Linked DNA regions of Homo sapiens. The protein of the gene in region 1 purifies or fractionates together with the protein of each later gene. This does not show direct contact. Each region holds a gene or a part of one and is shown on either strand. Other genes may lie near its edges.

Evidence for each region. The genes of interacting proteins can lie anywhere in the genome.
Region 2: the proteins of RSU1 (region 1) and PARVA purify together in Homo sapiens (affinity purification with mass spectrometry; 5 studies listed by BioGRID and IntAct, with this or other methods). This does not show direct contact.
Region 3: the proteins of RSU1 (region 1) and PARVB purify together in Homo sapiens (affinity purification with mass spectrometry; 3 studies listed by BioGRID and IntAct, with this or other methods). This does not show direct contact.

The regions. Positions count from the first base shown.
Region 1 is NC_000010.11:16,590,335-16,597,577, reverse strand, and holds the end of RSU1 (ras suppressor protein 1), read left to right. Parts: intron 1-4,081; coding exon 4,082-4,184; coding exon of another isoform or gene 4,185-4,317; 3' UTR 4,318-6,967; downstream 6,968-7,243. UniProt on the Homo sapiens protein: Potentially plays a role in the Ras signal transduction pathway. Capable of suppressing v-Ras transformation in vitro.
Region 2 is NC_000011.10:12,372,983-12,380,764, reverse strand, and holds the start of PARVA (alpha-parvin), read right to left. Parts: upstream 3,195-7,782; 5' UTR 3,118-3,194; coding exon 2,982-3,117; intron 1-2,981. UniProt on the Homo sapiens protein: Plays a role in sarcomere organization and in smooth muscle cell contraction. Required for normal development of the embryonic cardiovascular system, and for normal septation of the heart outflow tract.
Region 3 is NC_000022.11:44,125,253-44,132,495, forward strand, and holds part of PARVB (beta-parvin), read left to right. Parts: intron 1-6,234; coding exon 6,235-6,375; intron 6,376-7,243. UniProt on the Homo sapiens protein: Adapter protein that plays a role in integrin signaling via ILK and in activation of the GTPases CDC42 and RAC1 by guanine exchange factors, such as ARHGEF6. Is involved in the reorganization of the actin cytoskeleton and formation of lamellipodia.

The DNA.
Region 1 (7,243 bases):
TACCGAAACACCCTGCAAGGAAGACAAACGACATCTCTAGCTTACAGATAAAGAAACTGAGGCACGGAGAGGGAGGCAAACATTGCTGATCATTTGCCCAGAGTCATCAGCTAATAAACGTCAAAAGCAGGATTTGAGCAGCAAGTTCAGGGCCACTGGCTCCCACCTGGCCCTTTGTAGTGACTTGTTCTGCAGCCCCAGGATGTTCAGACACACACAGTGGGATCTGAATATAAAAAGGCAGAGACTGAAACAGTGGAACATTCCAGTTCGCTCCGAAAAAGGAGAAGAGCCCTGCAGCTTTTGCAACCCCTTCTGAAATCGCTTGCCTGGATCCCCATCGTCAGGGCCAAGCTGAACACCCACCTCAGCCCTTCCCGCATTCAACACTTGACTCGAAGCAGGGCCTTGTCAATTCCTCTCAATTCCTACTGCTCCTCTCCCTCTGCTGACCTCTTATCATTGCCAAGACTCTTTCCTTACACTCGGGTATTGCTAGGTTTCCATGGGCATGAACAGTGGAGTCATCTTTCTGTCAACTTTTAGAATCCTTACAGTTTGGAGGCCAGGTGCGTGGCTCACGCCTGTAATCCCAGCCTTTCCAAGGTGGGTGGATCGTTTGAGGTCAGGAGTTTGAGACCAGCATGTCCAACGTGGCGAAACCCCCTCTCTACTAAAAATACAAAAATTAGGCAGGCATGGTGGTACACACTTGTAATTCCAGCTACTTGGGAGACTGAGGCACGAGAATCACTTGAACTCGGGAGGCAGAAGCTGCAGTGAACTGAGATACTGCCACTGCACTCCAGCCTGGGTGACAGAGCAAGACTCCATCTGAAAAAATAATAATAATAATCCTTAAAGTTTGAAACTATCTTTGAATAAAAATGTACATACGTATTTTTTTGCTCTGTGCGGATAAGGGGTTTGGGAAACAGAGGAAAGATCTCTGAGGCTGGAAGGAAGCTGTGTGTGTAGCTGAAGCTACCTAGGCCGTAGGTGCCTGTGTGAAGACACAGAGTCAGACCCTTGCTTCCTGCCAGGTGAGGGGAGCTTGGAGACCTGATGCCTCCAGGGTTTATTACTCTGCAGTGCTAAGCCCTTGAGCATTGAGTCAGTGGCCCTGAGTAGATCAACATCTGAGGACAAGGGCAGGTGCTGTTAGAGGAGTACGCATGTTTCGGAGCTTGGAGGATGAGGAATAGAATGGAGGGATCTACTTTGAGCATTTCCTCTGCCTATCTGTTGTGTCTGGGAGAGATGCCGAGGAGGAGGAACACGGGTTGAGTCCACATGGCTAATGCAGGGTGGTCCTTAACTTCGACACCTGCAGAGCCCCTTTTGTCATGTAAGGTAACATACTCCCAGGTTTCAGGACTTGAACACAGGTATCTTTGGAAATTGGGGGCAGCAACAGAGACAAGGTTGGACCCGCTGAACTTTACTCCCTATCTAAACCAGTGGTCTCCCACCTGGGACACAGGACCCAGGACCCCCAGGTGCCCATGGCCTCGTCTTCAGGGGGACCCGTGACCCTTTTAAAAGTGTAGGTTGGGGGAGCCCCTATAGGTTGAAAAATGCGCTTTCATGGAGCAGATTTTTTTTTTTCTGAGACAGAGTCTCACTCTGTTGCCAGGCTGGAGTGCAGTGGTGTGATCTTAGCTCACTGCACCCTCTGCCTCCCAGGTTCAAGTAATTCTGCTGCCTCAGCCTCCTGAGTAGCTGGGACTACAGGCATGCACCACTATGCGCAGCTAATTTTTTCTTTTTTTTAGTAGAGATGGGGTTTCACCATGTTGGCCAGGATGGTCTCCATCTCTTGACCTCGTGATCTGCCTGCCTTACCCTCCCGAAGTTCAGATTCTCTTAAGGAGTTGTTTCTTCTTCTGTGGCTTCAGAGGAGGCACAGCCGGGCTGGTCAGGACAGGGCTACTGTCTCCATTACACAAGCAAAAAGGCCTCCAAACTAATTCCTAGAGATGTGGAAAGCCAATTTGCAGGCTCTTATGTTCTCTGTCTAGGACATATGGAAACTTCTTGATGCAAAAGAATGGCCTCCCCTTTTCCTGGAGTGCAATCCCAGCACCTGGCTGGATGTGCACGCTCCGGCTCGTAGGTCTGTCTCTGGCCAGCTCTGAACCCTGTGTTCTACACTCCGTGAGAGTGACCGCCGATGGAACCTGCTTGTACCGCCTCCAAGGCAACACTTGGAAGACTGGAATAGTTAGAATACAGTATGGCCTTTCAAAACCATAGTGTCCAGCTTTCCTGGATCACAAAATCAACTGGGCAGTTCCATCTGCCAGCCCTTCCCCTCTGCCTGTCAGCCATGGTGGAGATGTCATCAAGAACACTAGTATTGGACGCCAGGCACAGTGGCTCATCCCTGTAATCCCACTTTGGGAGGCCAAGGCAGGAGGATTGCTTGGGGCCAGGAGTGTAACACCAGCCTGGGCAACCTAGTGAGACCCCATGTCTATTAAAATAATTTTTTTGTTGGGGCATGGTGGCTCACGCCTGAATCTCAGCACTTTGGGAGGCCAAGGTGGGTGGATCACTGGAAGTCAAGAGTTCAAGACCAGCCTGGCCAACATGGTGAAACCCCATTGCTACTAAAAATATGAAATTAGCTGGGCATGGTGGTGCATGCCTGTAAGCCCAGTTACTCAGGAGGCTGAGGCAGGAGAATTGCTTGAACCTGGGAGGCAGAGGTTGCAGTGAGCCAAGATCACACCACTGCACTCCAGCCTGGGCAACACAATAGGACTCCATCTCAAAAAAAAAAAAATATATATATATATGATATATAATAGATAATATAGTATATTTTATATGATATATATGATATATTATCTATATGTATCATATATTATCTATGATACATATAATATACAGATAATATATGATATAGATAATATATGATATATATCATATATATCATATTATCTATCATATATATCATATAATAGATATTATATATGATATATATATTTTTTTTAATTAGCTAGGCATGGTGGCATATATCTGTAGTCCAGCTACTCAGGAGGCTGAGCCATGAGATCGCTTGAGCCCAGGAGTTTGAGGCTGCAGTGAGCTATGATCATACACTGCCCTCCAGCCTGGGGAGCAGAGTGACAGAGTGAGACACTCAGGAAAAAAAAAAAAATGCCGGACGCCAGTATATGCTAAACAGCCCAAGATGCCAGCATCCAGAGAGTGTGCATATTCCTTGTGTGGATGCTGGAGCTGGGCCACCTGGTACAGGGACGTCAGGCTCTGTGCCAACCCTCATTCACAGCAACTGCGGGCTGTGGAGCCGGGTATGCCCTTGCTGCAGAGGACCTGAGACACCCACCAGGCTCTCTTGGAGACACAGTTATATCAATAAAAGGAGTTAAGTTTGAGCTGTATTTATTTTAGGGTGGCTTTTAATTTGGTTTAATCAGAATTACTCATAAATTATCGATTAATTACCTTCTGCTGTTCAGTTAAATCCTCTCAGCCACGGAGCCAGCTTCGCTGCGCAATGAATGCCATCCACCGTAATTATAGGGCACTTTGTCAGCATTTAATCAGCGGTACTTATTAATGTGGCATTGATGTGTGGTGGCCAGCCCCACGCTATCCATCATGGGTGAGCAGCCAGCACAGATTTGGACACCATTGCTCTCTGTCCCATTAGCCAGCCCCTGGGCTTTCGGGCCAAGCATCATGCTCGCTTTTCACTAAATGGACACTCTGTCTCTTCCATTCAATCCCATTTTTATCACTGTCGACTTAAACACTCATAAGCTTTTGAACTTCAGTCCAGAACGGCTGAGCAGGGCCTGACCACTTCTCCCAGTGAGTGTGAAATCCCAAGAGACTGGTCCGTGATCGGACATCATGGCATGGCGTGCATGTGTAAGAGAATTTTATATTCAACACAGCGTAGCACCCAGAGAACACAGAAGTGATCTTTTGGTTTTCTTTGGCTTACTGAATATTTTTGGAGATTCTTCTATTCCTGAAAGCTCTTCCAGTGAAAGCTATCTTGTGTTGGCAAAATAGATCTGATAGTGTCCTTTCTCTGTCTTTGCAGCCTCTACGGCAGACACATGCAGGCCAACCCAGAACCACCGAAGAAGAATAATGACAAATCGAAAAAGATCAGCCGGAAACCCCTGGCAGCCAAGAACAGATAAGGAAGGGATTGGCATCGGCTGGCCTTCCAGCACCTTCTCTCTCCAACACTTCATTCTCTCTTGCCCTGTCTCTCAAATAAACCCAATGCTGCGTGTGAGGCCTTTTTTATTTTTCTTTTCACTCTCTTTCTAATGCTTCCCACCTTACCTTTTAGATTCTTTTGCTAGGTGGGAGATTGTTATAAGGTCTTTAAACCATTTCCATTTGTTTCTTTAACATTACCAAAAGCAGGGAACAAAGCTCTTATTCAACTGCGAATTCCATAGTGGGCTCTGGCTTTTCTTGAATAGATATCACAAGGTTGCTTATTATCAAAAGAATAATTAAAATCATGTAACCATTTAAATGTCACTGTTAACACTTTTCACTCTTTCTGTTGATTCACCTAACTCATTATTTTGCTTTATTAAAAGTCTTCCTTCACCACCGAGATATGCTAATTTAACTTACAAATGATTTTAATAAAATCTTGAGTTTGTATCACATGTTACTTATTGACTCAGAATAAAAGAACAGTCTGATCTTGGGGTATAACACATTTTCATTTACTTTTCTCCCCCAAAATCATCTTATCCAATTTTATTGGTTATACATGATAAACTTTTCATGAAAGAAATGCAAAATTAAATCACAGTTCGTTTCTTCTCACATTAATTTGTCAAGTTTTTTTTTTCTTTGAAGACTTTCTAAATTAGGAAGCAGAAAAACAAATCTCTAGGAGATTCTGCCAAAGGATTTTGGAAAGTAGCATTCCTTCGCCGAAGAAATGGTGATTTCTGCCAGGGGCTGGTAGACAAGAACTGTGAAAGAGAGAGAGAAAAAACCTCAACTGTGTATTTTGTCACGGCGGAAAATCTGCTCGCATCGAAGCATTCTTCTAAGCGACTTCGATGCCAAGGAAGTTGTGTAAATGTGCACGCGCTACACCACACCCAGGGTGGAAACCACAGTTGCAGAGTCATTAAACAATCAATTGTTTGTTTAACATCTGTGATAGGCAGCTTTCCTTCTTTTCAACAGTGATACCTACGAAAATCAAAATAAATGCAAGCTGAGGTTTTGTGCTCACTGAAAGGGCTGTCAACCCCAGAAGGCCGACACAAAAAAAATGGTATGTGAAGATGCACCGTCTTTTCAAATGGCCTGGGAGAGTCAAATGGCCTGGGAGAGGGGGCCTGCCCTTCTCTGCTGTGTCCTTTCGGCTTCCCAGTTGAGCTCCCAAGACCAGGACCCACTGGGGCATATAAAATCTCTGCTGTATCCTTTCGGCTTCCCAGTTGAGCTCCCAAGACCAGGACCCACTGGGGCATATAAAAAAGTCAAAAATCAAAATCAAACAACAAGTTCTGAGTTACTTAGGAAACAGACTTCGCATTTCAATCAGAGAGGCCACAGAGCAAGGTCTAAACTTCTGGCTTCTAGACAAATTCCTGATAGAACATTTAAATGTGGGAAGTGGCTTCCCCAGGTCCCATCCCCTGTTTAGGGATAGAGTTGATATCATTTTTATAGGTGCCATGTATGCCTCTGCCTGAATTTTTTTAATTGACTTTTGAGCTTTTGAGATTGCACGAGGGAGAACAAGGCCTTTGCTGTTGTGGATAGGAAAGACTTAACCTAAAATTAAACCAGCAAGAAAGCATTAGTAAAAATCTAACAATATGAAGGGCTCTTATGAGTCATTTTTTTCAAAAGATGAAAACTCCAGAAACGCACAGGAACGAAATACCTCCCAGAAACATGAAGCAATCATCGAAGACTCACTGGTAATATTTTTAAAAAGTATACAGATCAAAGCAAAAAGAAGCCATGTGTAACAAAGAGAAATGTGCAAATATTTTTTAAGGCAGTATTAAGTGCAAGAGGAGTAACATGAAATAAACATTCTTTCACATGGCTACTGGGAATATAAATTTCGCTCCAGAAAGGCCGTAGCAGTTTGACGATAGGTGGCAAAACCTTAAGATTGTGTACTGGGGCCCAGAATTTTTATTTCTAGGAATGTATCCTGAGGAAATTATCCGAGATCCCCACAAACTGCAATGTTTAGGAATTGTCCTTATAGCATTGCATACACAAGAAAAACAGAGAAAAGCCTGATCCCTGTCAGTGGAAAAGGGGTTCAATGAATTACGGTGTGTCTGCATGAGGCTTTTATGACATTAAAAATTGTTGAACAACGGCCAGGCACAGTGGCTCATGCCTGTAATCCTAACACTTTGGGAGGCCAAGGTGGGAAGATTGCCTGAGCTCAGGAGTTTGAGACCAGCCTGGGCAACACGGTGAAACCCCGTCTCTACTAAAATACAAAAAATTAGCCGGGCGTCGCAGCATGCGCCTGTAGTCCCAGCTGCTCAGGAGGCTGAGGCAGGAGAATTGATTGAACCCGGGAGGCAGAGGTTGCACTGAGCTGAGATTAAGCCACCGCACTCCAGCCTGGGCGACAGAGCAAGATTCCGTTCCCAAGAAAAAAAAATTGTTCAACAATAAGGGCAAAGGGAGAGAATCATAACATCTGATTAAACAGAAAAAGCAAGATTTTTAAAACTAACTATATAAGGATGGTCCCAGCTGTGTCAAAAGGAAGCTTGTTTGTAATACGTGTGCATAAAAATTAAATAGAGGTGAACACAATTATTTTAAGGCAGTTAAATTATCTCTGTATTGTGAACTAAGACTTTCTAGAATTTTACTTATTCATTCTGTACTTAAATTTTTTCTAATGAACACATATACTTTTGTAATCAGAAAATATTAAATGCATGTATTTTTCAAAATCAAATTGGTATGTCATGGTATATTATGCAATCCAGGAAATATATATTTAAGCTCAAGGCATAATATAAAATGTCAGGAGGGTTTTTTCTCTTTTTGTTACCAAAATGGATTTCACGTCTTTTCCTACAGTTTTTAGTTACTTGATATCTGGATCAGCAAACAAAATATCCAAAGTTTGAAAGGTGGCCTTTTTTTTTTTTGAGACGGAGTCTCTCTCTGTCACCTAGGCTGAAATGCAATAGCGTGATCTCAGCCTACTGCCACCTCCGCCTCCCGGGTT
Region 2 (7,782 bases), on another chromosome or scaffold:
GTGCTAGAATAAGGGAGATGACAGTCCTAATCTGGGGTGGCTGGCTTGCACTACAACTGTACTATGGTGACTTCTGGAGAGCTCACTTCGAGCGGGTCTGGTAACAGGTTGATCTGCTAGGTATTCTCCATTTCCACCGTCCCCACTGTGATCTATTCTCTGCACTGCTCTGTGCCCTATGGACGCTGCCCCTATCTATTGCAGATCCCTTGCTCTGATGGCTTCCCACTGGGTTCAGCACCAGTAGGTGATGCACGGGCAAGAAGACAGAGAACATGCAGAATGTGCATTTATTGTGCCACTCTCTCCTTGCTCTGTCTGCATATTTCGGACAGTAGCTGCATCCCTCTATGACTATAGTTCCAGTCCAGCAGCCCCTCGTCCATAACCCCAGCTTGTAATAGGTTCCAATTTGCTTCCCTTGTCCCTCAGGCCTCGGAGTGATTAAGAGCTTCCTCCTGTTGCTAGCCCCTAGGGACCTCAGCATCCCTTCTTAGTTCCCTTAACCCTGCCCACAGCTCTGTCAATAGCCCTTTCACTAAATTATTTTCAAAATCTCAACTAAATTGGCCTTCTTTTTCCTGCAGGGACCCTGTCTGAAACTAAAGAGACAGGATGCAAAAGTCCTTAAAATTATGTCTGTGAGGAATAGAGGATGTTGGGCCTGGTGGAGAGAAGACTCTAGAAAGCAGGATAGCCTACTTCAGCAAGGTAGTAATAAAAGGCCACCCCAGACTCATTCTCTGGCTCTACCAACAGTGATAGGTACAGAGAGATAAATTTCTACAGAGTAGGTAAAGATGGTTATCCTGGTAGGTCATGAGCTTCAATATTTCTCAGTTGCCCCATCTTAAACTGGATGAGACTATGTCAGGAATGCTGCAAGGAAGAAGTTAGAAACATGGTCTAGAAAAGAGCTTCCCAAGCCAGGGTTTCATGATTTGCCACCAACTGTACACTACTCGATGGGTTACCAAAATAACCAATGTGGGGAAACTTTTGTATGTTTTTGCTGCTTCTCGTTTCAATCTAGGGAATAGAAGTCTAGTTCTTCATCAAGTCTGATAATCCTCAGCGCTGAAGATGTTTTTATACTTTAAGATGACTTACAAACATGAAAATTTCACACAGCATCACAGCTTTCAAAAGGTTATTTCTAATTCATGGAGCAATCTATTAAAAACATTTTTTAGGGGGGAAGAGAAGTTGATTAATGGTTACAAATATACCATTTGATATAAGAAGACCTAGTGTTAGATTGGTAAACTAACTATATTTTACAATAACCTCTTGTATATTTCAAAATATCTAGAATTCCAGTGGTCTAGCATAGAGAAAAGACAAATCTTTAACGTGATGGATATCCCAAGTACAGTGATTTTGTCCGAGGCATGTGAACCAGAGCAACTCCATCTTGAATGGGGCCAGGTAAAACAAGGCTGAGTGAGACCTACTGGGCTGCATTCCCAGAAGGTTAAGGCATTCTAACTTACAGGATGAGATAGGATGTGGGCACAAGATACAGGTCATAAAGACCTTGCTGATAAAACAGGTCGCAGTAAAGAAGTCGGCTAAAACCCACCAAAACCAAAATGGCGACAAGAGTGACCTCTGGTCGTCCTCACTGATACACTCCCAGCAGCGCCAGGACAGTTTACACATGCCACGGCAACGTCCGGAAGTTACCCTATATGGTCTAAAAAGAGGAGACATGAATAATCCACCCCTTGTTTAGCATACCATCAAGAAATAACCATAAAAATGGGCAACCAGCAGCCCCAGGCTGCTCTGTCTATGGAGTGGCCATTCTTTTATTCCTCTACTTTCTTAATAAACTTGCTTTCACTTTACTGTGTGGACTCACCCTGAATTCTTTCTTGCGTGAGATCCAAGAACCCTCTCTTGGGGTCTGGACTGGGACCCCTTTCCTGTGCAATTTGATCTTTACAAATTATATGAATGTATTACATTATCACATGTGCCCCAGAACTATGTACATCATGCATCAACTAAAAAATGTTTAAAACAAAAATGTTTAACTCAGCAACTTCTATCTACACACCAGTCACCACAGTGCTTCTTGAGAACTGCCACCTCGTTTTCAAACCAAAAACCAGGACGCAAAATCTGTGCATGGGAAAAAAAAATATTTTACATGCAAACTACCCTGAAAAAAAAAAAAAAAAAAAAGAATAAGGTCGCCTCAATTCACTCTGGTGGGGAAAAAACAAAGGTTTTTACGAAAGCCCTGAATGCCTGAGTTCACAGCAGGCCCATGACGAAGTTTGTGTCTCACGCAGGTTTTCTCCTTTGGTGGGAGTTTATTGTGTATTACACCGAGGGCACGCTAGGTTTGCCAGTTTTTCGCTCATTCATTCAACAAACACTCGATGTCCACCTACTCCATTAACAGAGCCCTTCTCAGCCCTCGGGATGGACAAAAGATCCCGAAGAGGCCAAAGCCACGACGCCGCTGCCAGAGGACGTCAGCAGGTCCAGGAAACGACCTGATTTTAAGGACCAATGAAGGCAACGAGTAAGAGCGACGGCGCCCAGGAAAGCTGCAGCGGAAACTTGGGAAATGCCAGCCTTCGGGCGCAGAGGGCGGGGCAGGGCCTACTGGATCGCACTGTCTGCGGGCTGGGGCCCCGCCTGGGCTCCGGTCCCGCCGCCTCCGGCCGCCAAGCGGCGCCCGCCCACGGCCCGGCGGGGGCGTTGGCCTGGTCCCCGGCCCAGGAGGGCAGCGCCCGGGCGACCGCGAGCGGGCGGGGTGGCCTCGATGGCCCGCGAGCCCCGGGCTCAGTGTGGGGTGCGCGTCGCTCCTGCCCGACGTACCCGGGAAGCGCGCGCACGCATCGCCGCGCGCCCCACCGCGCCGGGCACCCGCGGCGCGCTCCCGCCCGGTCCCAGTGCCCCGGCCCCTCGGCCCCTACGGCACCCCCGGCTCCTACCGCCCGCCCGGCCGGCCTGGCCGCACTCACCCTCCTTGGCTTTCTTCCTCCGGGCCAGGGTCCCTCCGAGTTTCCCCAAGAAGGAATCATCTTTCTTGCGGGACGGGGGCGACTTGGGAGTGGGAGACTTGGGGACAGAAGGCGACTTCTGCGGGGAGGTGGCCATGGCGCGGCGCAGGCTGCCGCGGGCCGGTCGGGACGCGGAGCTGGCGCTGGGCGGACGCAGCGGGCGGCGGCGGGACTGAGGCTGCGGCTTTCCAAACGGAAGCGGAATTATTCCAAGCATTTGAGGCAGCTCACGCTCGCCTTTCCCTTCCCTCGCTCCCTCCCTCGCTCCCTCCCTCGCGCCGCCCTCTGCCCTGGAAGGAGCTGCGCTCCCGGGGCCGCGCCTTGCGCCCCTGGGTTGCCCCAAGCAGGGAGGATGCCCCAAAACTGCCCCTTGCAGGACAGGAGGACGTGTGTGCCCAGGTTGGGAGCGGTCGAGCCGGAAAGCTTCATTTACCCAGGCTCTGTCCCCACCACACAGCCTGGCGCAAAACACATCTGAGAACCAACCCAACCCTGCTACTCTCCCGGGGTCTTCCAGCCGGCGGCTGGTGAGCTCGCTCTGCCCCAGCACTACTGCCTGTGGGGTTATCAGGCCCACGTCTTGCGCCCACAAGACTGCAGCTCCTGGAAGAAATTATTGCAGTGAACCAAAATGTGTCCAGGCCCCACCAAAGTGGGCAGAACCAATCACTCCTGAACCTATCCATGACCGTCAACCTCCTCGTCTCTACTCCCATCCAAGACTGAGAAGCTTGGAGTGCACAAGGGTAAAGCCGAGGCTTCTTATTCTTGTAAGACATCCGTGTTTCCAGCAGCTTATACAAAGGAAGATCCCACGTGGTGGTGGAAACATGAATGGGAAAAGCACAACCATGAGCTCCTACAGGACTTCCCGCAAAATTTATCCTGCCTAAATAAAAGCAAGAGAGTGACAACCAGACTCATTTGAGATAACAGGGGAGTCATACAAAGCACAGTGTTTGAAGGACTCATACTGGAAATGATTAAAAGGCACGTGTTATTGAGCTTACCCATCTCAAGTTCTCACTCTGGCTCTTTGTCCTTCTGTCTGTCTCTCACACACAGACTCACAGCACCTTGGCAACTGTGTTTCCTCCTTGTGGCCCCTTCTAGGCCACAGCTGATTGAACCTGGGTGAACACCTAATCCAAAGGGCGCTACTGCTTTACTGAAGAGCAGACGATCAGCTGGCCCCAGTTAAGACTGCACTAAGCTGGAGAGACTGTTGTCAGAAGTTGTGCTCGTGACTGATGATCATTCGCAATCAAAACTAGGGTGGCTGTTTCTAGCCACGTGCATGCTGAGGAGTAGGGAAACCAAAGAATGGAGCAAAGAAGTGTGCTCAAGAAGCCACGTGGTCTGAGTAATGGAAACCGTGGGGAGTAGCTGCTTGGACCTTGAATCTTTTCCCAGACCCCACTTGCACTTCCTGCCAGGGCCAGCTGTGCTTCTTCCCAGGAGATGTTACTCAGCCTTTTATTAACCCATCCACAGTTCCTTAAACTAAATAAAGTGACAAGCAACAGTTTCTGAGTAGAACTAAAATTTAACAAAAAGATAGTCAACAGATTCTCAACACCGTATAGGTTCATTTTATCTTAAGAGTCTTAATTTTACCTTTTTTAAAAAAAAAAAAAATCTGCTTTAGTTGGTGCCTCTTACTTAACAGCAGAAAAGTCATGATGTCTGCTAGCCTGGGAAGATTACTACAACTCCTCCTAGACAATAAATCTTAAAGGGATGGTGAGAAGCCAAAATATAAGTGTGTTTTGATTACATCATTAATCATTTTTGTTCAGGATATCAGATATAGGACATCTCCAAAAGCGTATCTCCAGCCCCGAGAGCTCTTGTCAGGGAATTAAGAGACACGTAGCTCAATAGCGGTGTGATCTTGGAAAGGTTTACTCCCTTTTCTGAGTCTCCATTTCCTCATCTACAAAATGAAATGGTTGGCACAGAACAGTGGTTTTCAAACTCGATCGTGCATCACAGTCGCTTAGAAGTTTGTTGCATTCACAGGCCCCATCTCCAGAAATTCTGATTCAGTCGATCTCAGGTGAAACCAAGGGATAGGTGTTTTTTAAACAGACTACATCAGGTGATTTCGATGTATTAATAGCTGATTCACACCCTGATGTCTTGCCATTTAGGGCTACTTTCAGCTCTTAACAGTCTGTGGTTCTTTATTCTTTCAAAAATTGCTAATATCTGTATGCAAGGCTTAGTCCTAAATGTGCCATAATCAAAATTACCCATGGAGATTCCTTCAGTTGCCCATGCATGCTTTTGCATATATAATACTCCTCAGTAATTGTTATGTTCGTTAAACTTGGAAAACCACTGAGCAAGGCTAAAAGGAGGAGTAAAGTCTTGATTGTTGAATGCTAGCTCCCAGAAAATATCAGCAAAATAAGCTGTGGAAGAAGGCAAAGCTGAATTTTTTGTACACCATGATAAGGAGAGCCCTGCCTTGGCAGAGTCTCAGTAGCATCTTGGAGTAGGGGAAGGGATATTTATAAGGTTTTGGAATCTTGATGAAGACAGGCCTTCCAGTGGGATGGTGCTTGATTAAGTTTGACTAAGGATCATGATATAATAGATAAGGACTGGTAGACCCTAGGCAAAGCTTTCCAAGAGTCTTGGAGAGTAAATAGTCTTTTTAATGCTATCTATTGAAAAGTCTAATGGGTTTATGTTCATTTCAATGAGATTTGGTGGGGAGTTCTTGAAAAGAACAAGAAAGTTATTCATAGCTTTTTATCTTCCTGGGCAAGAAATTTTTGGAAGACAGGGGAACGATAAAGTCCTGTTAATGTATGCAGTAACCTGCATTGGTGGGAATGGTTGCCAGGGTCTCAATATTATGCTGATACCTTGTTATTCAAGCATTTCTACTGGTAAGATCATTATCAATCTTTCTGGAAAGGCCAGTGGGAATGGGTGGTGAATTATAAATCAGTGCTACTCACAGTGTAGTCTGCAAACCAGTATTGATCTGGATACCATTATTAGCTGCCAAGACCAGCTTGGTCGGGGAGACCCTAACCCAGCGGCGCTAGAGGAATTAAAGACACACACACAGAAATATAGAGGTGTGAAGTGGGAAATCAGGGGTCTCACAGTCTTCAGAGCTGAAAGCCTCGAAAAGAGATTTACCTACGTATTTATTAACAGCAAGCCAGCCAGTCATTAGCATTGTTTCTATAGATATTAGATTAACTAAAAGTATCCCTTATGGGAAACAAAGGGATAGGCCGAAATAAAGGGATGGGTTGGGCTAGTTATCTGCAGCAGAAGCATGTCCTTAAGGCACAGATCGCTCATGCTATTGTTTGTGGTTTAAGAACGCCTTTAAGTGGTTTTCCACCCTGGGCGGGCCAAGTGTTCCTTGCCCTCATTCCGGTAAACCCACAACCTTCCAGCGTGGGCGTTATGGCCATCATGAACATGTCACAGTGCTGCAGAGATTTTGTTTATGGCCAGTTCTGGGGCCAGTTTATGGCCAGATTTTGGGGGGCCTGTTCCCAACAATTAGCCAATGACATAAATGTAGAAATTGAGAGTTTTTAGAAACTTTTATAGCAATTTAACAACACTTTATGTCTGTTTAATCTAACAATAATCAGAAGCTTATATTTTGAATATCTTTTCATTCTATTTTTCTAGTAATTTTTTATTTTTATTTACAAAAATATTGCTCTATGATGAATTGGTCCTTTAGCAGATTAAGAAGCACTGTTCTACATTGCTCGTGTTTACTTAGAGAGTTCATCTACTCTCATTTGATATAATGCTTTTAGAATCCTTAAGAATGTGAATTGATCTGGTTTTTGTTTAGAAGAGTAAATGAGATAATCTGTGGGAAAGCACCATCTACAGGGCCTGGCACTGAAGTAGGCTGAATCTAAATCTTACTTAGAGACATGCTGCATGCTATTCTTTGATAGGATGGGAAGACCTTGTACCAGCTCCCTCCACTCTAAATTGGTATTTACAATTATGTCCCCACTGAACAGCACCTCCTCTCATGCTCGGTCATTGTTTTCATCTTACCCAAGGGATTTGATTCTAAGGACAGATCATCAATTAAATGTGTGATACGTAAGACTCTGCTGAATCTCTAGGCTGCCTCTTCTTGAAATTGGGGCCTAGACAAATGCACTGGAAGAGAATAAACTCAGGTTCCAATCTTAGCTTAGCAGCCAGGTGATCTTGGGTAAATCTCTTCCCTTTCTGCATTTATTTTTCCCATCATCTATAAAATGAAGCCAAGGCAGTACCTACTAAAGCCAACCATCATACATACCTTATGATCAACAATTTCAATTATAGGTTATACCCAACAAAAATGAGTACATGTGTACACACAGAGATAGGCTCTAGAAAGTTCACAGCAGCACCATTCAGCTGCCTGTTAACAGTTGAATTGATTGTGATAACCACAGCAATGAGAGTGAACAATTTGCAACTACAAGCAGCAACAGGAATGGATCTTACAATATAATGTTGAGCGAAGGAAATCAGACACAAAAGAGCACATACTGTATAATTGTATTCAAGTAAAGTTCACAAACAGGCAAAACTACTCTATAATGTTAGAAGTCAGGATATTGATTAGCCTTGGAAGGTGTAGTGACTAGAATGGAGTGGGTGGCATGAGGAAAACCACTGAAGCTGCTAATGTTCTGTTTCCTGATCTGGATACTGGTTACGTGGATATATTCACTTTTAAAAATCAATGAGACATACACATAGTACT
Region 3 (7,243 bases), on another chromosome or scaffold:
ACATGTGTCGGGTGGCTCTTGGCTGTAGAGACACAGTGGGAAACAAGAGAGATGAGCCCCGCACCCTGCGCCTGCCCACTCCCCCAGCACACATTCTAGCAGAGTGAAGAAAGAGAAGTATTATGGGGTGGAGTGGTTCAACCTGAAACCTAGATGATGTTTTAAAGGAATGACAAGTGCTAGGAGGAAAGTAATAGAAGGTTATGGGGTACAGTGGTGGGTGGGGGTTGGGGAAGGCAATCCAGGGAAGCTCCTCTGGGGAGGCGACATCTGAGCACATGTCTGCACAGTGAGCTTGGGAAGGGCGTTCTGGGCTGAGGCTCTAAAGCGAGAAAGAGCCTGTTGTGTTGGAGGAGCAGTGAAAAGAAGCGGAGGCGGGGCCCAGGTGGCAGAGAGGGAGGGAGAGAGCCAAGAGATGAGGCTGGGGCCAGATCTCATTCAGCCCTGCTAGACAACAGTCTATTCCAAGTGACAGGAAGCCATTGGAGGTTTTGGGTAGGGCTGTGACGTGGATTGGGTTAGAGTTTAAAAGGTCACTTAGGCTTCTGGGTGCAGGATGGATGGGGAGGAGAGTCAGGAGTTGGAACTGAGAGATCAGTCAGGACACCATTGCCATGGCCCAGGCATCTGATGAAGTAGCTCAGCCCCCAGAGTGGAAGGGCAGACATGGGGAGGTACTGTACAGTTAAACTGCCATAGGAACCAAGACTGATGGCCAGGTTTGTGGCTTGAGCAACTGGTAAATGGGAAGCCGTTGGGAGTAGGGTGGGAGGTTGGGAAGGCGGGGGTCTGTGTTGTACATGCTGGGGCTGAGATACCTGCCCTTTTGGAGGTGATGCTGAGCAGGTGAGCCTGGAGTCCAGGCTGCAGTGTACGTGTGAACCCAGCAGCACTGAGCTGATGTTTAGCACCGTGGGACTGCACGGCTTCACCCAAAGAGGGTGTTCCAAATTTTATTTGGCTGAATGCCGAATGCCCAAGAATTAACATCTATATTTGGCTAAGGTGAGAATCCCCATCTTAGAATGAGATCCCATGGTACAAGAATAAGTCTGAAATGTTCATCAAGATTGTGTCATAATTATCACAATTTTATTATTAAAAACGTTAGTGGCCAAAGTTTTGATGTTTTGCATTGCAGTATCAGTACAGTCACACCCAGCACTGTTGGGTACCACTTGCTCTTGAGGTCTTCAAACCAGACATTTGTGATGCTAGATGCTCACTTTCAACTCAGAAGGCTGGAGGAGCACGTGGACCTTTGGCTGATGCTGTCTGAAGGGATACTCCTCATGTGAAGCTGCCCCTGGGCTGTCAGTTTTTCTCTCTCTGAGTGGCTGGTTATGGTAGAGACTTACCTCCTCTTTGATCTTGGATGTGAAGATTGGGCTGTTGCTGGTGATGGCCCTCTGTTGAAGCAGTCCCCCCAATTGGTACTTTGCTCCCTACCTGAAGCAGATATTTTCTAATATTTTCAGAAGCAAACTTGAGTGTTTTGTTCACTTTCATTTTTTATTTCTGATTCTTTTGCCTGCACCTGTGGCTTCTCCCACCCAATGACTTGAAACAGTATGTCAGCAAGCCTTGTATCTGGCAGCCTGGCTGTGGAACTGGCCCTCAGAATCTCAGGACAGGCTCTGAATTTGCATCTGCATCTCAGCCGTGGTTGCCTGTAAACCATGCCAGTGCCTTCTATAGAGCAGAATTACAGGGGCATCTTTAAAGCTGCATCTTCCCCTCTCAAGGCACATCCTTTTGGTTCCCTCTTCAGTTAGTGCTAGCAAATGCAGCACTTACTCCGGAGTTGCTGTGATTGTCCATGAGTCCTGCTATATCAGTTGTGTTATCCATAAAGTATAACATGAGGCTTCCTTTGGCTCAAGCAGCCTTTTTCTTGTGGAGTAGCTGCTGTTCCATCTTGTTTGAATAATCACATAAGCACTTGAGAAGGCAATTCTAAAATCTCTTGAGTGTCAAGTGGTTTGACATATTAAAACCACTTTTTTTTTTTGTACTGAAAAAAAGAACAGTGGACTAGAATATTCAGATAGTAACACAGCATCAGAATGTCTTGCCTCATTTTGTGAATGTTGTTACACTGAAATGACATAATATACTGTTGATGTGAGATCCTCTTGATGTGATACTACTGATGTGATCACCTGATCCTTGAGCTCCAGGATGCCAGGAATGACACTGATGTAGGCATTCAGCTCTTTGGCTTTCCAAAGGCAGAAGCCCAAACCAAATAGGAGATTTTAGCTGAATACCAAGGTCAAAGCCAACTTCTGTGCATCCGTAGTAGAGAAGAGGTCTGAGGACTGGGTCTGGGCTGTCAGCCATTAGTGGTCAGGAAGAGGAAGTTCTGGCAAAGGTCAGTCACAAGGGAGGGGGAGCCAGAGGAGTGTTGCATTCAGGAAGGGTAAAGGAGGTGTTTCTAGGAGGTGAGAGGAGGAAAGAGAACAGACTTCTGGTTTGGCCATGTGGAAATTGCCCAGAGTGAACCAGCAGGACCCCTGAGGAGTCCCTCTTCTTTTTTTTTTTTTCTCTTGAGATAGTGTCTCACTCTGTTGCCCAGGCTGGAGTGCAGTGGCGTGATCACAGCTCACTGCAGCCTTGACCCCTAGGCTTGGATGATCTTCCCACCTCAGCTTCCCCGGGAAGCTGGGATCACAGATGCATACCACCATGCCCAGATAATTTTTGTATTTTCTGTAGTGCTGAGGTTTTGCCATGTTGCCCAGGCTAGTCTTGAACTGGGCTCAAACGATCCTCCCACCTTGGCCTCCCAAAGTGCAGGGATCACAGGGATGAGCCACTACACCCAGCCGAATCCCTCTTCTTGAGAGAAGATTCTGGAAGCAGCTGCCGGGTTCTCTGCCACATGCCAGGTTTCTGGGGGTGTAGCTCCCCTGTGTTTGCAGTGCAGCCCTCAAGGTAGACTGCATATGGCCAGAGTGAGGTGCCCGTGCTGTGGGAGCTCCTGGCTGTCGTCCTGCTGGTCACTCACGGGCACACCCTCTCCTTGTGAAGGTGAAGTTCTTCATCACATGTGTACTCAACCCCCATGTGGCCATCACTCAGGGTCACCTGCTACATGGGAGAATCCTCCCCAGTTTTCTCTCTTTCTGTGCTAGGAAGATAGGGGTCCTGGCCACAACAGAGCCCTGAGCTGCTCCTGCGGCCCCCGCCAGTGGGCACAGTGATGTCTGATGATGCAAGTGATCATGTGCCGTATTCTCTGTTGCACAGGAGTCACCCAAGACCCAGCCTAAGGCAGCACACAGGCATGGCCAGTCTCTTTGGTCTCTGTTGCCTGCTGTTTCCACCACCAAATTCATATTTTCAAGTCCTACATGCAGGGCCCACCCATGTGACCTCATTTTACCTTAACTGCCTCTTTAAATACAGGCACATTGCAAGGTATGAGAGCCTCGCCCACTAGGAGAGATGGGTAGCCTGGCAGCCTCCCACTGTCCCTGCTACCAGCCAGCCCTGCAGGTTGAACCTCGGAATGTGACTGTATTTATAGAGATAATAATAGGCTGGGTGTGATGGCTCACACCTGTAATCCCAGCACTTCCGGAGGCTGAGGTGGGCAGATCACTTGAGGTCAGGAATTCGAGACCAGCCTGATCAACATGGTGAAACCCTGCCTCTACTAAAAATACAAAAATTACCTGGGCGTGGTGGCACATGCCTGTAATCCCAGCTACTCGGGAGGCTGAGGCAGGAGGATCGCTTGAACCTGGGAGGCAGAGGTTGCAGTGAGCTGAGATGGTGCCATTGCACTCCAGCCTGGGTGACGAGAGTGAAACTCCATCTCAAAAAAATAAAAAAATTAAAAGAGGTAATGAAAGTAAAATGAGGCCATACGAGTGGGTGGGCCCTAATTCAATATGTCTAGGGTTCCTATAAAAAGAGGAGATTAGGACACAGACATGCACAGAGGGAGACCAAGTAAGGACACAGGAAGGAGAGGGCAGCCATCTACAAGCCAGGAGAGGGGCCTCAGAAGGGTCTACCCTGCCGGTGCCTTGATCTTGGACTTCTGGCCTCCAGAGCTGTGACATAAATCTCCGTTGTTTAAGCCGCACGGTGTGTGGCATGCTTCGTTGCAGCAGCCCAGACAAACGAATCCAGTGTCCTCCGCTCCTCTGCCGACTCCTCTTCCTCCACCCTGGGTGACGTGGCCATGTTCAGTCTGCGGGGCCGGATGGTGGCAGGTGCAACGGGGGCGCGTCAGGCTTCCCATCTCCCTGGTGGGCGAGGCTCTCAGACCACCCAGTTCTGTATGATCCTATCTCTCTCCTTCCTTCTCCAAGCTGCCCTGCTCTGCCCTTTCCATGGTTGTTGAACACCTGTGGGACCTACTTGCTCTCTACTTCCAGGGCGCAAATTCAGACAGACAGCTGTGGATGACTCAGCGAGGAGCTGTTAGATCCAGATGGAGGGAAATCAGATGAATAAGCGGGAATCGTTTCCACTCCCCTGCAGGATGTGTTTTGTTGGGCTGCTTTGTTTTTTCTCTTGCAGTCATTGCCACCCAATCAGATGTTTTTTACGGGTGTTTATCTCCCCACTAGGGACCTCTGTTATCTGTGCCATATCCAGCACCTAGGACAGTGCCTGTCCCATAGTAGGTGTTCAGTCCCTATCTGTGAGCCAACAAACGCATGATCGAAGGGGTATTCCGAGCCCAGCAGGCCTTGCTCTAGAATTTTATTATCTTGAAAGGGATGCCAAAGCTGTTTGTTTTCTAATTGAGGGAGGGGAGGCTGCTGGGGAGATAACACTGAAGACATGGGGGCCTCCAGCTAAAATGTTTTAAACAGAACTTTGTGCTGGGAACCACTTGCAAAACAGAAACCCCATTTGTGACTGGCCTGGACTTGATTGCTTTCATGATGGCATGTCAATGCCGCGTCACTGACAGCAGCTGTGTATTGAAGGCTCTGTGCTGAGTGCTTGCAGTCACCCTCCCAGTGAACCATCTCACGATGCTCTGTGACGTCGCTTTTGTTGTTTTGCAGAGTGGATCTATCAGTAAACACTGGAGTCTTAGAATCGAAGACTAGCAGGGAAACTGGGGGTCCTTCCTGCTGTGTGGCCCTGCAGCGGGCGTGGGGTGGGGCGCTGGTGGCCGGCACCTGCCAGTACCTACTGCTAACAAAAGGGAAATTGAAGGAGGTGCAGGCTGGGCTGGAGCTCAGTCTCAGTAATTGAATCTTGATGAAATGTGACAGTTCTTGTCTGTGCTCCTCCGGATTGTTTCCTGTTCATTCTTGGTAATAAAATCATCGCCAGTTCTGTGAATATCTAATCTAACTTCCTATTGTGGCATTAGAATGTTTAAGAAACAAGAATGGGAGCCTCAGGTGTGTGGGGAGGCAGAGGCAGCTTTTAAGACCTTTTTTAAAATTATCTTTATCAGTCCTCTCCCTTTTGGGACCCACAGGGACAGTCTTCTCACCTCCTGACTCCCACTTTCATTCTTCCCAGGTAACCTCCTTGCCTCTCAACTACATCTTATTATGTTTTTTCCATTTTGTATGCATAGAATGTTCCCGAGTATAACACCCACAGTTTTATCCTTAACTATTCTTCCCTTTTCAATCTGGCGTCATTCTCTAAGGAAGATTAGTGACCTGGAAGCTCAGCGTTCATGGTTCAACATCTCAAGACGCCCCCATGGCCACATGGTAACCTGCCCCGCTTCGGGGACCTCCTTGAGGCTGGGGTCTTGGTGGTTTTGAGTTCCTCCAGTATATCTCTCTCCCCTTCCTCCCTCCCTCCCTCCCTCCCTCCCTCCCTCTCTCTCTCTCTTTTTTTCTTTCTTCTCTCTCTCTCTCCTTCCTTCCTTCCTTCCTTTTTCTTTCTTTCTCTCTCTCTCTCTCTCTCTTTCTGAGGCAGGGTCTCACTCAGGTTGCCCAGGCTTGGGTGCAATGGCATGATCTTGGCTTACTGCAACCTCCACCTCCCGGGTTCAAGCACTTCTCCTGCCTCAGCCTCCCGAGTAGCTGGGATTACATGTGTGCGCCACCACGCCTGGCTAATTTTTATATTTTTAGTAGAGACGGGATTTCACCATATTTGCCAGGCTGGTCTCGAACTCCTGGCCTGAAGTGATTCACCCACCTCGGCCTCTCAAACTGCTGGGATTACAGGCATGAGCCACTGCGCCTGGCCCTTCCAGCTTTTTCTGACCCTCTTCTCTTGTGCTTCTCATTGCAGAAAAACTGGCAGGGTGCAAGCTGAATGTGGCTGAGGTGACACAGTCCGAAATAGGGCAGAAACAGAAGCTGCAGACGGTGCTGGAAGCAGTACATGACCTGCTGCGGCCCCGAGGCTGGGCGCTCCGGTGGAGCGTGGACTGTGAGTTCCACGCCACAGGGGGAGGGACTGTCTGGAGGGAGCCCGTCCTCTCGACATTCGTCATCCACATTTGTCATCCACATTCATCATCATCCCATCTGGCCTTGCATCTTAAAATTGGGTTCATCTCCCTGCTCTGTAAGAGGTAGAACATTGCAGGGGAGAAGAACAGGAGAAGGGTTAGGGAGATCCTAGAAAAGGGACCTGGTCAGGCCACAATTCTCCATCCTCCCCATGCTGCAGAGGAGAGAGGCAATGTTTATGGATGGGTGGATCAGAGGGACTTTGAGAGAGAGAAGCAGCCTTGGGGGGTTCTTGTTGGGACTCAACCCCAAATACTGGTGGCAGCAACACCTAGTGGGCTGTTTGTCTATGACCCTGGCATTATGAGATGTGACATCACGGTATTTTCAGCCAAGACATGAACCCGGCAGGTGAAAGACTAAACCAGGAGAAGCTGGAAAGTTCTCCTCGGTCCTGCCCACTCCTTCCCCACCTCCCTCCCCTGGAAGCAGGGCCATGAGGGTGTGGCTTCAGGGCTCTCTGTGCTGGGCCAGAGGTCTCCGTGCTTTGGTGAGCTGGGCTCTCAGTGGTAGGCAGGAGACCCTGGAGCCTGGCCTTGCACCCGGTTTCTTGGTATCGAGACCTTGGGCAGACCCAGGCTGTCTCGTGGGTGGCTGGGTCCGTGGGTGGGGAATCGGGTGCCTTGTAAACTGTAAAACCCTGCAGGAGAAGTGGTGATGTTGACCAAACCTGAGTCCGCATGCTGAGGAAGAGAGAGGACAGACTCAGGCAAGGCAGGGGCTAATGTCTAATGTCCCCAGAGTGGCCTCTGCTCTTGGCAGCCTACCCTTGTTGGGATGGTTCA